Regions from separate parts of the Homo sapiens genome. Here region 2 is linked to region 1. The links come from fine-mapping of genetic effects on gene expression. Tissue or cell type: whole blood. Region 1 holds a variant in brackets; the other region holds the start of a gene. All regions are shown on one strand. Distances are from middle to middle.

Region 1 (8,183 bases):
GAGTTAATGAGGGCACAGAGAGAGAAAAGAGACATAGAGAAATATGGGGCATGATGGGGGGGTCTCTACTGCAGCAAAAAGGAAAAAGGAGAGCAAGAAATTGAGAAAACAGTTTTTATACATAGGATTTTTGTATGTGTTGCCTATTTTGTCTCAATTTATTTTTATTTTTTTCTCTTCATTCTCTTGGTCTCTCCTTTTCCTGGGGGGTCTTAGACACCATGTGTAACTATTGCGTGCTTCCAAAGTTTTCCACTAAACAGACCACACACATACATACAGACACACCACACACAACCAAATGTTCCCCAACCCCACCCCACCACCACCACCACATACACACAAACACATACCCCTCACACTAAAATAAAACAACCAAAGGAGAAAATTGGAGGGTGGAAGCAAACCAAGAGACAGGAAGGTAAAATCTGGCCCCTGCCTTAAAGCGCATTAGTTAGGAGAGTTCACTCTCTTGGTCCTTTACATTCCGTGGGGAGAAGCAGTAGAAAATTACCGGGTTATTCACTCCGAGTCTAAGCAGCTGAATAGGAAAATAGCTTTAATAGCCCTATTAGGACCTGGGCCAAGGACTTTTTCTTTGGGTTTGTTGTGAATGATTAAAGGTTAACGGTGGCATTTTTCTTTCAGCCTAGGGGAGACAACCATCTCAGTAATGATCCTAATTGGATCCAACTGGGGAACTCCAGAAAGTTTCAGTAACAAATTTGCAATGGTTCTGGGCCTTTTAATATGGATTCACAAAAGATAATGAGGTTATCCTGTCATTTCTACCCTATGGATGAGGAAAGTGACATTCAGACAGGCCATGGGATCTACCCACTCCCTCGTAAAGAACTGGAGGACCAACATTAGCAACAGGACCTCCCATTTGGCATTTTGTTTTCAGATGTGCCTAGAAGAAGGAGATTACAGCTTCTTGGACTGTTGAAGCCTGGGTTCTTCTTGAGTTGTGAAGATATCACCTAAATCCTATCCACATTTTGTGCACCAGGTTTGTGGACGCCTACCACCATTCATTCATTGCAGTGGCTCAGAGAAGATGAAAACAGGACTCTTTGGGGCCAATGAAGATCCCCAACAGAGCTCAGATGACCAGAGTGGACTGGCTTCTACCCTAAATACATACAACAATACTTCCCACTCTGACCTTGCTCACTTTATACAACACCACACAACTAGAGAGTGGCAGAGCTGCTGTGGGAACCCAAATGCCATCTGACTCCAAAGCCTTACTCTCAACCACCACCCTGCTGCCTCCTATTCTTTCCTGAAATCTTCAGTATAGTCATTATTATGAAGTAAAAAAAAAAAGAAAATGAAAGGATGGAAGGAAGGTAGAGGGAGCCCCTCTATCTCCATTCTTTGTTTCCATGAAGAACCTCTACTCCATTTTCAGGGGAGTGCTATTGGTGTAACACACTTTCTGGCCCTCTCCCTCCCATTCTTGTCACTCATTCTCCCCAAGGAAGAAGCGATATGTGGATGATAAGATTGGAAGAAGCCACTCTTATGTTCGGTGGTGTGCTGGTAAATGTTTAGCAGCTGGCTCTGGGGCAGAGAGAAAGCCCTGAATTGTAGTATGTGCCAATCTCCATGGTGTAAAAACACTTCTACCATAGCTGCTTCCAAGTATGTAAATTGTACACCTCAATAAAGCCAATTTAAAAAGTAAAGTCAATCAGTTTGTAAAACTCTTGAGACTTTAACATTCAGTCCAGCAAGCTGTTACCTGCCGGATCCAGCAACACACAACCCGTAACATAACGAGTTGGGTCTCAGCTCCCCGCTCTTCACAGACTCCAGAGTTCTCTCCCCTTTGTGGGGTTCCTCATCCATCCTTCCATTGCTTCTGCTGCTGCCCTGAAGGCATCACCGCTCTCCCGTCTCCTCTTGGGGCACCTAACTCTCTTAACAGTTTAGGACTTTGAGGAGTTTTGCCTTTCACAAAAAGAAAGAATGGGGGAAAAACGGTTATGCCTCAGCAGCTTTCGCTGTCTACCCTGCAGCACAAATTCCACTTGATGGAGGAACACAAAGGTCGGACTCCCTGCCGTGAAGAGGAGAAAGGGAAATTCGAATATGGAAGGAGCTCTACTCTCCCTTGCTCTGTCCTCCGCAAGAGAATGGGGCAGAACATTCTTTAGTCTACACCTCTGTCCCACATGAGTTGCCAAAGACCACAGTGCCTGGTGGGTGACATCTCTCCAGGCTTTTGAAGACATCTGAGCCTGGATTTTGAGCACATTCCTGACCTCCCTACTGGGAGGCTCTTCTCCTTCAAGGTCTGCCTTCTGACAAGCCCTAGCTCTTTCCCACCTCCAGTGGCTGGGTGGGCCGGGGGGTGGGGTAAGGGTGGAGATGTGGGCACATTCTGGGAGCCCCACCAGAACCCCATGGAGTGGAGAAGTGACCTTCTAAGGAGGGGAGCGTACAGTTTCCGGAAGGGAGGAAGGATGCGGTGAGGACCAAATGCATCCATGCAGGATTTCAAATATAAACGACTCTATAGAATACAAGCACCTACTCCTGGCAACCGAAGCCGAAGGAAGCCTAAGAATATAAGAGACGGGGCTTCGGCGAGGGCACGTGACCGAAAACTCACATAACACTCCACCTGCCCCAGTCCAGCCAGCCTGCTGTCCACAGTGTGCCCATCAGTGTATCAAACCTCAGTGCTTTATTTCCTGGGATCCTGGCCGAGCTCCCATTAACCTCCTGTGTTGTCCCCACAGCTCCTATACATGGGAGAGGGCCTGCGTTGGGCCAGATCCCAGAGCTGGGGCCTAATTTGTGATGGGATGCCCTGGGAGGCAAGCGTGCTTCAGCATGTACCCAATCAATAGCCAGACACCCAGGTCCGGAGGTGCCTGAGTCGGTCAGCAGGACGTTGGGCAGGTCTAGGTTCAGAACCTCTGCAGTTTTTCCCTTGGCTTCCCCGGGGCTTGTCCACAACGCCCCCTGCTGCCCATTCTTGGTTAACCTTGTGTCTTGTGGATACCTCATCAGATCTGTTCATGAAGCCTAACGCAAGGTCCTCCCTCCAGGGTGACACAGTGAAGTCAAGTAACAGATGTGGAGATGCTTTGGAGAGCTTGAAACAGAAGACTACATAATAACAATGGGCCAGTATCATAAAGCCAAGATTGAAGAAGACAGAACTGAATATCTCCCTCATCTGCAAAACTTGCCTTATCTTTCAGTATCATCCTGTTTCAGTGGACAGAAATCAATCCATCATATATTTGAGCCCTGCTCTTATAACCAAGTTAAATTTTGCCTAAAATAAGGCCCTGCCTCAAGCAAATCATGGTTTGTTTTTTATTTTATTTTATTTATTTATTTTTTGAAATGGAGTCTCGCTCTGTCACCCAGGCTGGAGTGCAGTGGTGCAATCTCCTCTCACCACAACCTCCCCCTCCTGGGTTCAAGCGATTCTCACCTCAGCCTCCCAAGTAGCTGGGATTACAGGTACGCACCACCATGCCTGGCTACTTTTTGTATTTTTAGTAGAGACGGGGTTTCACCATATTGGCCAGGCTGGTCTTGAACTCCTGGTCTCAAGTGATCCTCCCACCTCGGCCTCCCAAAGTGCTGGGATTACAGGCATAAGCCATCACGCCTGGCCAAATCATGGTTTAGAAAAGGGAGATGGTCAAATATAATTGTTATGACTGCCATAGTACCTACTATGTCCCAGATAATTTGCCTAGGTTTTTAACCCTCACAACACATCCCTAAAACATTGTACAGATGCAAATGCAGAGGCACGAAGAGGCTTAAAACATTCCCAAAGTCACATAGTTACTATAAAGCCAGTAACTGGCTCTATGTCTATCTGAGTCCAAAATGTGTTTTGTCCCCTTCTGTGCCTATGCACAGAGGGCAGTGGGAACATAAATGGAGGTGGAGGGAGGGGTAAGAAGGAGACATCAGTGGTCTACCCTCTTTATGTGATAACAGACTCCCTCTTTTATCTGGCAGCTGCTCCCTCAAGAGGAATACCCATTCTTTCTTCCTAGGTCAAGAAAGAGAGTCCAAGGCATGGTCAATCACAACACTGTCCCTCTAGTCATGGGCCAAGTGCTGGGCACACGTCACCAGCCAGGCTACTCTTAGCCTTTCCCATAATTTTAATAACCTGAGACTGGGAGAAAGAAGCCTCACTCTCTCCTGGAGTGATCAAACTGTATGTAAGTCTAGAGTTCTCTGTGAGTACAGTCTCCTCTAGCAAGAAAGGATGAGACCAACTCATAATAAGAAGCCAAAATACATGTACATATGAGTAAGAGAGAGAGAGAGAGCTGACAGCATTGTTTGGGTGTCTGGATCTAGCCATTCCTGTGGTGGCTCTGTCTAGTCCTTACTTAAATGAGTTAATACATCCCCTTTTAACTGAAGCTAGTTTGTGTTGGGTTTCTGTCCCTTAAAGTCAAGAGTCCTGAGAAATACAATACTGGTCAAAAAAAGTCTTCATAGAACAGGTGAACCAGGAAAAAAGGGATTCACCAGAAAGATAAGAGGAGAGGCAGAGGGTGAACGTAACAGCAGCTGCACTCGAGGAACTGCGAGCAGCTCAGGATGACTTGAGCTGAGATGTGCAGAGGGGGTTGGAGAGACGGGCGAGAGCCACATCAGGGAAGGCCTTGTTTGTCAGGTTAAAATGTTTGGTCTTTATGTGAGGGCGACAGGGAGCCCCCAAAGGGTTTCAAGCAGTGGTGTGACATGCTCAAGCTCGTTTTGAGAAGATCACTCGGGAGAACGGGTCTGAGAGACAGCACAACAGGAGGGCAGCGGATTAGTTATGAGGCTGCTCCGGGAATCCAGGTGAAGAGCTCAGGATGGAAAATGACT[C/T]GACGTTTTTGACTTGGTCATTGGCCAGAGGGGAGGGCAAGAACGAAAAGAGTTGTGTTTTGTTCATGTGCAGTTTGAAGTAAGTATCATACATTTAAATGGAATTGTCCAGTAGGTTTACTAAAAGAGATGACAGAGTTGGCGATGTTTAAGTTTTTCTGAGTCATCAATTCAGCTGTTTGCTGTCTGCCTACTACTGGCCAAGCACTGTGTGGAGGAGAACACCGTCCAGCCTCTGCTCCCTGGCATCACACTGTGGCAAGACAAAACAGATGATAACCAGAGAAACCAATCAAGAAACAAGGGAAGTGCAGGGGAGACCGTAAAGCAGCATCGTGTAGCAGAGGGGCTGGGGTGGGGGCTCCATCTCTTCAGTGGTCCTGGAAGGAGGAGCTGACGCCCTGAGGGTGCAGGAGGTGGCTGAAGATGAATATTCTCCAATTCATGCCCACTGAATAGGAACATGCCCATTTAAAAGCATCCATATGCATTTTGTTTGGCTTGTTGGTTTTCTTTGCCTGCCTATGCCTTCAAAGCTGGCATTGAGGTGGCAGGAGGCTTCTGTGCAGAAAACTGAGGCTGGTGCTGGAAAACTCCCACCATGGCCCCTTTGTTCTCATCCAGTGCCTTTCATCCCACACTCCCAAAGCCCATCCTGGCGCCCACCCTTTAATTGTCAGGCCTGGCTCATCGACACAAGCAGGTGGCATTTGATCATTATTCCTGCATCATAAATGAGGGTAACAAAGGCCTCCCTCTCCAGGGTATCAGCCAATATTATTTTGTGAGTTCAAGGGATCTGACTTTGAGTTGAAGCAGAAAGGCCTGATGTCCCATCCTTTTCATTTCTGGAATTACCCGTCGCTGCATCTTTCTGTTACCGCCATTTCCTCTTTAACTCCACGTATCTAACTGGAAACTTTGCTTTTCTTTGTTTCATCTTCTTTGGAATATGTTGTTCCCTGTGACCCCTCCCCACAAAGCCTTGCCTCTGCAGCAGATGCCCTGAGCCTTCCTGATGCCTGGGACTGGTACCTCATCCAGTTTGCTTGTTTCAGGCACTAACTAAACTAGAATGTGCCTGGATCCCTATGGGCCTTGGCTTTCTACCAGATGACAGGCAAACTAAGAGACGTACACAACCTATGCACTCCCTTCCCTCTAGAATGTTTCAGCAGGGGTCCTCTAAGTAAGAAAGCTGGAATTAAAAGGAATAGTTTTAATGGGGAAACCCTGGCTAGGGAGATGCTTGATACCCTAAGGCTGTATGTCTAGCTAGGTCAGGCATAGCTCAGTGCGGTCTGCATTTCATAGCAGATGTTTAGTTTGGAAAGTCCCCTGGCTACTTGGCTTCTAGAGCCCTCTCTCACCATGGGACTTCTCTGTGGGAGGACAGAACTCATCAATCACATTCTCCAAATGTCAAGTTCCTGCTGTGTAACCCCAGGAGAACCTTGCTTCCCATCTACATAACAGAAGTGAGGACCCCAGATTTGCTAGACAAAAGCTTGAACCTGTGGGGAAAGGTCCCCCCAGCTGGTCAGAATTCCCAAAGAAGGCTACCACTGGGAGATGGATTGCAATATAAATGGCACCCCCACCCTCTGGATGTTTGTCATTTCACCCTTCCTTCTTTACCTGACAATCTCTTAAGAGATTCTTGGGGGGATGTAATACACCAGCCAGGAACTAAATTATATTCAACTTTCTCAAGTAGATACTATTTCAGCTACGTTTGGGAAATGCTTAGCCAGAATTTGAGGTCACTGGAAGAGGTCATAGAATCACTCAGGTTCAGACTTGTGGAATTACTTACACTTTCCAGAACCTGTCATGACTTCTTTGGCTCCAGGGCTTTATACCTGCTGCTTCTTGTGCTTTGGGGTTTCCTTCTCTCCCACCAGCCCTATCCACAGCACACACATGCATACACAAACATGTACACACGTATACACATGCATGCATGCACATGCGCACACATGCACACACATGCATACACAAATGCACACACATACATGCATACACACACATACACACACATTCACACACATGCATACACATACGTGCATACACACACATGCTGCACACATGCACACACATATACATGCACACACATACATGCATACACATGTGTGCATACGCACATGCATACACACACATGCATACACAGCATGGCCTCTGCTTGTCCTTCCAGAGTCTCTTATAAAGCTTTTCCTGATATTCCAAGTCTCAAGCTAGCTACCCTCCTTTTTTTTTTTTTTGTGACTGAGTCTCACACTGTCACCCAGGCTGGAGTGCAGTGGCACAATCTCGGCTCACTGCAACCTCCACCTCCTAGGTTCAAGTGATTCTCCTGCCTCATTCTCCCAAGTAGCTGGAATTACAGGCACCTGCCACCACGCCCAGCTAATTTTTTGTATTTTTAGTAGAGACAAGGTTTCACTATGTTGGCCAAGCTGGTCTTGAACTCCTGACCTTGCCACACCCCCATTTTTACAGTTTTCTAACCATTGACTATTTTCCAGTCTTTTTTTTTTTTTTTTTTTTTTTTTTGAGGCAGGGTCTCGCTCTGCACCCAGGCTGGAGTATGATAGTGCAACCATAGCACATTGCAGCCTCCTGGGCTCAAGAAAGCCTCCTGCTTTCAGCCTCCTGAGTAGCTGGGACTACAGGTATGTGCCACAACATCCAAGTAATTTTTAAAAATTATTATTATTTTTTTTTGAGACGGAGTCTTGCTCTGTTGCCCAGGCTAGAGTGCAGTGGTGCAATCTCGGCTCATTGCAAACTCTGCCTCCCGGGTTTGAGTGATTCTTGTGCCTCAGCCTCCTGAGTAGCTGGGATTACAGGCGCCCACCAACACACCTGGCTAATTTTTATATTTTTAGTAGAGACAGGTTTCACCATGTTGGCTGGGCTGGTCTCGAACTCCTGACCTCAAGTGATCCACCTGCCTCAGCCTCCCAAAGTGCTGGGATTACAGGCATGAGAAACCATGCCCTGCCTAAAATTATTTTTTGAATTATTAATTATACAAAAATCATTAGTTAAAAATCATTAAATTTTGTATTTTTAGTAGAGATGGGGTCTCACTATGTTGCCCAGGCTGGTCTCAAACTCCTGCTTAAGTGATCGTCCCACCTTGGCCTCCCAAAGTGCTAGGATTACAGACATCAGTCACTGTGCCTGGCGAAGTCTTTACCAATTGGCAATAAGCTCTCTGGTTGTCATTACAGTTCCAACGTGCCAGGCAACCAGTAAATGATCAATAAATATTGGCATTTTGGGTGAATACATAGGTCATTAGTGCT
Region 2 (8,183 bases), 73 kb before region 1:
CATCTGCTGGGCAATTTCTATTCCTGTTCAAACTTCATGTCACCTATGAACTCTCACCCCCAGGCTCTTTATCATAACATCTTTTACCATCTAAGGTATGTATGTCAAAGGCCACGCTTAAGTGCTGGACACTTATCTCAGGTGTTGAGCTCTGTTAAGAGTCAGGCCTGTGTCCCATTCATCTTAGGATCTCTGGAACCTAATACAGTGCCTGCCACAAAGAGGCACGTACGTGTATCATATTGATACCACCAACATATTATGTGCCTTTAATGGAATTTTTGGTGATTTCACACACATTTTTAAGCCTTACTAGTTTGCTCTGTAGGTAGGAGAAATTATCAAAGTTTACTGATGTGGACATTTGGTACTTCTCATCAGCCTTGGACCTGGATTCCTTGAATATAAATTAGAAAGCTGTTCTGAGGAGCCATCTAGTCCACCTTATAGTTCCAGAATGTTGTCTTCAACACAGTAATAAATAAACATTTATTGTTTAAAGCTTAGATATAAGTCCTCGTATAGCTAAGGAAGTATGATAAAAGCACAGCTTCTCAATCCTTCTTTGAACATTGCTCCAATTTTCCCATTGAGCTCATTCTGGAAGCTTAAACCAAATCTTCCCTTGATATCATATGCCCATTAACTTAGACATGATTTAGCTTCTCATCATGGCATCTTTGCTGAGAAAGCTAGAAAGAAAATATTCTCCCTGGCACCCAGCCTAGAAATAGCCATATTCCTCTAAACTCATAACTTAAAGCCTTCACTTCCCCCAAACAGCCCCTGCTGGACTAGTTAGTGAAACCAGGCCAGGAAGGCTGATGCTACCAGGGGAGGTATGGCAGTGCGACATCTTTTTGTCTTACCCAGCACCTGCTCCTTGGGGTTCTTGCAATTCCTTATGAAAAAGCACAGACCAATACCCACGCTAGAGAAAAAGAGATCATCAGCGGAATGTGGTGGTAATCTGGTCTGTGTTTTGAAGCCTCTCACACCACTCCTCCCTAAACTGCCTAGCCACCGCTCTGGGCACACAGGGTACAACTCCTGTGGTCCTTAAACAACTCTGGCTAGAACTGTAGATAAGTCAGCACTCGGGGACTCACAGAGAAGAGAGTCCAGGGAAGGAGCATGGCTACCCAAAACGTCTGTTAAGCCTTTAAGGAGCTGGTGAGGACTCTGCAAAGAACATCTGGCTCTGTCCCCTAACAATGGGGGAAAGGAATTGCTTCAGATTGCTGCAGCTCAACTAGCTTTCACATTGCTCCCACTCCCCTTTAACACACACACACACACACACACACACACACACACACACACTCTCTCTCTCTCTCTCTCTCTCTCTCCCCCCCCACATATATACATATGATGTATAACGTTGCTGGTAAGTAATGGCTACCATTTATTGAACACCTGAAAATGTTAATTATATATATTGCCTCATTTAATCTTCATGACCAGCCCATTAAGCAGTGGTTCTCAAACTTGACCTTGCGTCAGAATCTCTCCAGGAACTTATTAAGCCCCACACCCACAGCCTACAGAGTGAGGCCTGAGAATCTCCATTTCCAACAAGCTCGCAGGTGATAAGTATGCCCCACTTTGAGAACCACTGCCACAGGGAAACAGAGATTCAAGAGTGGTTTGGAATGTCTTGCCTACAGTTCCACAGCTAGTAAAGAACAGATCCAGAATTTGAACCTAGATCTGTCTGACTCTACAGACAGTGCTGGTAACCATGCTACTGTATGTGTGAATGTATGCCTCATCTTCCCAAATTCATTGGCAGATCCTTAAAGGCAGATGTCAATCACACTATAGACCTCCCTCATCCATCTCAGAACTTCATAGGGTCTTTGGACTTGGTAGGTGCTACATAAATACTTTGTATACTGGCTCCTACATATCTACATACTTCTAAGAGCCACAAATTCAAACTCAACTTAAGCCAAAGAACACAAAAAGGGCGCATAGCCAGACCCAGTTTTACGTGACATTCTCTCTCGCTACTCTGTCTTTGCCCATGGTGCCACCACACTAACTCCTACTCACTCTTCAGTCACTTCCTTCAGAAATCCTGGGCTCCCTAAAACTGGGGGCCACTGCACCCTAAGTTTATCTCTATGATGGCATTTACCAATCCACTATAACTGGCTATTTTCCATCTCTTAAAGCAGTTGGTAAAAGCTAGCATCTAGTTTAACAGTATACCCCCAGAGCCTAGCACAGCACCTGGCACTTCACAGGCAACTCCATAAACTGTTGAATGAATAAATGCAGAGCTACAAGTCCTAAATTCTGTGTAAAAATATCACAATACGTGATGCGCAGTTCTCAAAGATGAATCCCAGAGAAGAGGAAGGCAGCCTAGGTAACAAAGACCAATTTTGCCTTTTCTTTTCCCTATCACTTCTCTCACACTTGGAGAACATGCACCGCTTAGGGCAGCATCATCCGTGATGAGACAACATCCTAGCTGAACAAAACGCTCGTGGGCTATAAGGTCAGCAGAGGCCATTCAGAGGGGAGGAAAGTGTTCTGTGGCCCTTCGTTTCTCCTGATTTCTCTCTGACACACTCTCCTTTTCACTGTTTCTCCACCCCACTGCAGTTAAGGGCTTTGGCACAGGGATGAAAGAGACAGATCAGACTCAAGGGTGCGGATCTGGCAGCGGGCACAGAAGCATCTCCTAGCCTGCACCAAAGTCCACGGGAAAGATCCAAGGGGACAGTGACTCTGGCCCCAGATAAAGCGCAGCTAGAACAGTACTGAGATTGGAAGAGCAATAATTTCACATGGACATTAACTGTCAGAGATCTTTTTTAAAAATCATGTTTTTAAAGTACAGACTTCAACTCTATTCCCAGAAAACTGGGCCCTGCTGAATCCAGTGCTTACACAAGCTGAGAGCCAAACACAGCTTCTTCCTCTTCCAAACCCACCCACCAGCCCGCAACATCCACCATGGTAAGCATTTCCCAGGCCCAGGTCAGGACCCTTGCTTCAACTTTAGCTTGCAAAAGGCCCCTTTTTAAAGAGGCCTCTTAGCTTTCTCTCTTCCCTTGCTAATAAAACTGTTCCCTACCATCACCATGTTGCAGTAAGAGAGACCTCTCCCTTCTTCCAACCCCTCTCGGTCTATAACACAACCTACAGCAGGTTGGCCCCATCCAATCAGTCTGAATTGCTTCATGCCAAGGAAATTGCTGCTTTTATTAAAAATAAAAGCACACTAGGCAGGCGAAGGGCTGTGAAAAGTATGAGTCTGGCATAATTATGAAGGTCGAGGTTAAGGTTACCAAAAGAGACATGCAAAGATTTCCCGAAAGCCTGGGGGAATCAAGATGTATATCTACGTGAGTATAGACACACAGATGAAACACAGAGGGAATTTATGCAGCAGATCTAAATAACATCCTCTCTGATAGCGAAAAAACAAAATCAGAGCCACTCTCAAGTAATTTTTCTTTTGATTAAAAAAACAAAAAACAAAACCTAAAGCGAGAAGGAAGAGGGGCCTACTAGACTGAGTTCAAAATAACCACATTTGTTTTATGTAATTTCTGTTATCTTTGCTATAACCTGGGGACCTGATTACAGTTGGGTCAGGAAACAAATCTACTAGTGAAATCCACCAAGAGCCTTGGCCCTTGGAAAAACACGTTCACGTTCTCCGAAAATCCTCTCTTCCTTCCAATGCCTGCTCATGGAAGTGGGAAAGTTGGGTAGGAGAAGGAGAAACCCCTCTCTTCTTAAAAGTCCCCCCACCCTTCAGCCTTCACATCAAGATTTTAAGTTTTAGGAGGATGACAAGCCCATCACCCTGCCTTTGGCATAAAGCTTTACACTTTCACACATACGTTTTCTTGTGTGATCCTCAAAATTTGGCTTCTCAATATTAAAAAAATAAAAATAAAAGGCCACTAACGTAAACAATTTCGGCAACCTCCCCACACCCCCATAAGCCCAGTCACTTTCAAATCTCAATTTTAAATCTCTCAAGGACAATGACTCACAGGGCAAGTGAAGGGGGAAGGGAGGGTCAACTGGTCAAAGCCCATTCATACATGCAACAACTAGAAACCACAGTATTGCCGCATCAGCACAAGATTTTAATTTACGGCGCATTGAGCCCCACCGTACCTTCCGCCAACACCTCGTCCACTGTGACCTGCTGTCGCCCGATGCCGAAGACTCTTCCGATGTAGCCACTGCCCAGGCCCGAGGTGCTGCCCCCTCCTCCGCTGGAGCCGGAGCCCAGGCCAGAGCCGCCCTGCTCTCGCCGGGAGTCGAAAAACTTCTTCATCTTGCGAATAGGGAGCAGCAAAGCAAAATACCGATGGTTTCTAGATTTTTTTTTTTTTTTTTTTTTTTTAAGAAAAGAGATCCAAGGATTTCTTCTCAGATTTCACCTCGGAGAGGAGCCACCCGAATCCGGCCGTGGGGGTGGGGGCTGAGGGAGGATGCCTATAGGAATATGCGTGTCAATCGCGCAGCGGGTCCCCTCCTCCTCCAGAAAGCGATTCGTGTAAGTTTAAACCTGTGATGACAGAGGAAGAAAGAGAGGATGAATCAGTAACACGCTTAAAAATTCAACCGCTGAGTCCTAGGGGGAGCAAAAGCCATCATCCTGGGGAAACGCTTCATGTATTTTCCCGGCGAGAAAAACCGTGGGGCTGAAAACGCGACCCCGGCCCCAGAACCCGGGACCCCCGAGCCGGGAGCTCGGAGAAAGGAGGGATCCGAGCTGCTCCGGCAGCGCCGACCCTCCCGGGCACTGCCTCCCGCTCCTCCCGGGTCTCCCCGCCGCCCCTCGAGGCGGCATCCTGGCAGCACCCACTTGAGACGGCTCGGCGGCCGGCGCCCTGCTACCAGCCCCGCGACATTGTCACGGCCGCCGGGCCGGCCTGCGACGCAGAGAAGAGGCGGCGCTGCAGCGAGAGCCGGGGCCGCGCTCGGCTCCCGCCCGCCCGCCAGCTGATCCCGGGAGCGCCGGGCGGAGACTGACCCGCCGCCCCTCCCCCGCGCGCGCTCCCGCCCGGCTCCATCCACCCAACCAGGAAGTGAACCGCCGCCGGAAGTGCCCCTCGGGGCGGCGCGGCGAGGGACCGGGGCCTCTCCTGCAACCGCCGTTCTGTCGCCACGGATGGGAAGGAGTCGACCGCGAGAAGAGGACTGGGGGAAGAGGGTCTCAGTGCAGACAGAGTTCTGGAAAAGACTGTTGATATCACCCGAGCCGCAGGGCAAGCTGGGAAAGGTAGCTCGGCACAGTCCGGCTGCTGGACTACAAATCCCAGCATACTCCTGGAGGAGAGGGCGAGGCGGCAGCCGTGTGGCCTCCACGGCCTCGAAGGAGATTTGTGGGGTGGCGCGTATGTGGGGACTCGGCAATTTAAACACATCCCGTGAAGAAACTGCCAACAACTAAGTTCCCCCCCCCCCCCCCCCGCTGTATGTTCCACCCTTCTGGAGCCATCTTATTTGCGGCCTGGCCTCCTGGCACAAGGGATTCTGGAGGTTGTGGTTTCCGAACGGATCGAGACTGACACCTGAAGGACGCGGCTTAACCGCTTAGCCCCTAGCGGGTCCTGTGGGTTTCCCGACGTCTCCTGGGCTGAAATGGAAGCGAGAAGTGATCGGGAACATTGTGCTGGCAGTTGGATCCGGCTGCACCGAGCGCCAGCCTTGAAATAAGTAAAACCGATGCCCTTCCGCCCCTAACCTCAAAAGCTGCTTTTGCGTCTCGATGTTATTGAGAGCCGGCTCTGCGGTCAGCTCTGAGCTAGGCGCTGTGAGAACGCTCAGTAAGACAGTGTCTCGTCTGGAAATGTACAGGCGAGATTCAAACCGAGAAACTGCCAAAGGTTGTGTGCAGGGCAGATCCTAGGATACCGGAGACCCAGCCCGTTGGCTTGACCTCAAAACTCGGGGGCTTTTCGGCCCATGCTGTCCCTTAATTCCTCCTCCTTTGCTGACGCTGTGGGTGCGCATCAAAGCCTAAACTTCACTAGCTCCCTTGCACACAAGAACACTAACCCTAACCTGACCAGTTATTTATTTTTCACTTCAAGATTCTTCCATTGATACTTACGTTTCCCTGATACCGTCCAAGTGCTGAGGGCGGGGATGGACTGTGTGATTTGCATCTGCCAAATGCAGAAAATTTGGAAGGTCAGTTGGTACACTTTTCCGACCTAGATTTCCTGATGGATGATGCTGAAGAGTGGCAAGTTGCTGCCAAAAACAAACAAAAAAACCTACCATGATTTATTAATATTATTTTTCTAACCCCTGAATATGGGTTATTGTTCATCTCTGCCCGCTTTCCCCACTCCCTAGTGCTTGTCTCAGAATTTTTTTTTCAGCGGGTATTTGAGTAGAGAAGGGTGTCCCAGGGAAAAAAATGGTTCTTGCTTTCTCTAATCTGAATATTGAGCTGAGCTGTGACTGGGTTAACAGTAGCGTTTGTTGTTGCTGCTGCTGCAGCTTGTTTCAAGTAGTGCCATTGTAATTAAACTCCGTGAAGAGATAGCATCTTTTCTTCCGGAGAGAGTCAGTGTTGTCACCTCAGTTCACGAATTCATGTAGCCACCTCCAGGGTGAAATGCAGCCCCTATTCCCTCAAACTAAGCCCACGAAGGCATGTTCTCTGCACTTTCCTTAAAAGGCCAGATTTTTGTCTGAGGAAGTTTGAAGCAGATCTTAAAATAGATGAGAAAGCTCATTTGGAATTAGACTCATTGACCCCCATTTCTCTCAGCACTTATTTGTCTTGACTGACTTTTTTAAACAAGCTGTGCTAGGTCCTAAAATCAATCTGATGCTATCTCAGTTTTTACCTTTCTAGACTTCTCTGGTACCAGACTAGTCCAGGCTTACACAAATCTCAAGTCTTACTTCAGTGATACAAAAACTCCCAATATGCTTAAGGTAGCTAACATGCATTTATTTAACACCCACGTGAATGCTCTGATCAGAAGCTGAGGGAAGAGGTTTAAAAAACAAAAAACATGACTAGATTCCTTGCCCTCCATTCCCTCACAGACTAATAGCAATTATAATGACAAATCCACAGTTTTTCATGCTTTACATATATTAAGTATATAATGCTCACAACCACCCTATGAAGTAAAGTACCATTATTATACTCATTTTATAGGTGGGTAAGTAAAGCAAAGAGATTAGTGACTTGCCCAAAGTCACACAGTAAATAGCAAAGCCAGGATTCAAACCCAAACATTTTAGTTTCAAAGCCCAGTTCTTACCTGGCTATACTAAACTGTCTACTTAGAGAGAGCAAACATTAACTGATTAAAAGACTCGTGAATAGTTAGAAACCCACGCACAAGCAGCATAGGACCAGGAGACAGGAAACCTCTTGCCACTTCATAGCTGGGATCCTAGACCACTTGTGTCACTGGGCTTATTATCTCAGCTATAAAACCAGAGCTCTTACAACTCTTAGTAATTTTTTAGTTCCTGAGTACAAAATAATGAACAGATCAGCCACTATAATCTCAAAACTATCACACTTTCTGTATAATTTGTCCCATGCTGCTTTGCATTCCTGTTCAACTTTTAATGTATATTGCTGTCTCAACCAAACACCTCAAAGCCAGAGAACCATCTTCTACTTATCTCCTTGGGCATCCAGTATAATAGTTTACATAGAGTGTGTTCTTAGCAGTACTTAAAGTAAATAATTTACTTTAAATGTGACACAAAACAGAGCTATCTGATTAAGGTGGAAAGATTGATTTGAAGTATCCTAGATGAATTTTGAACTAGGTGTGGAAGATGCTATGGGTAAATAGTCAAAGGGAGTGGGAAAAGAAAGTGCCATTTACTATTGTTACAATAGTGATCATATGACCGATGGAACAGACTCTTTGAGGCAATAAGATGCCAAATTATAAACAAGACCTAAGGCTGTGTCAGGCAAGGGTTAAGTCACACATCCCTACACTTGAAGAGTAAACCATCTTCTAACTGCCACAAGGTTTTTCTTTTTCTCTGGTAGCTAAATAGACACTGGCCTGGAGATAAGCAATATTGAATCAATTGTAGCTCACTGACCACTAGATGCTGACTAACTGTATCCCCCCAACCCCTGTTCCACAAACCATAACTATTTCTTTGATTGGACAAGAGACTGATTTCAGTAACATCCTAGTAAGAGA

The links. PIP is the estimated chance that this variant, and not a neighbour inherited with it, causes the effect.
Region 2: AAK1 starts here. The variant in region 1 is fine-mapped to the expression of AAK1 in whole blood (TOPMed, PIP above 0.99).

Annotation. Positions count from the first base shown.
Region 1 is chr2:69,711,862-69,720,044 of GRCh38, forward strand. It overlaps a transcript of ANXA4 not described here. Among named protein-coding and RNA genes, the nearest start is that of ANXA4, 26 kb to the right of the region's middle. The variant C/T (reference allele first, on the strand shown) is at 4,873.
Region 2 is chr2:69,638,732-69,646,914 of GRCh38, forward strand. It overlaps AAK1 (AP2 associated kinase 1), which reads right to left and starts at 5,008. Exons shown (of 22, transcript NM_014911.5): 1 at 4,844-5,008; 2 at 4,147-4,543. The coding sequence starts at 4,309. It also overlaps a transcript of ANXA4 not described here. RefSeq lists a silencer at 4,757-5,086 and enhancers at 5,167-5,436, 6,192-6,794.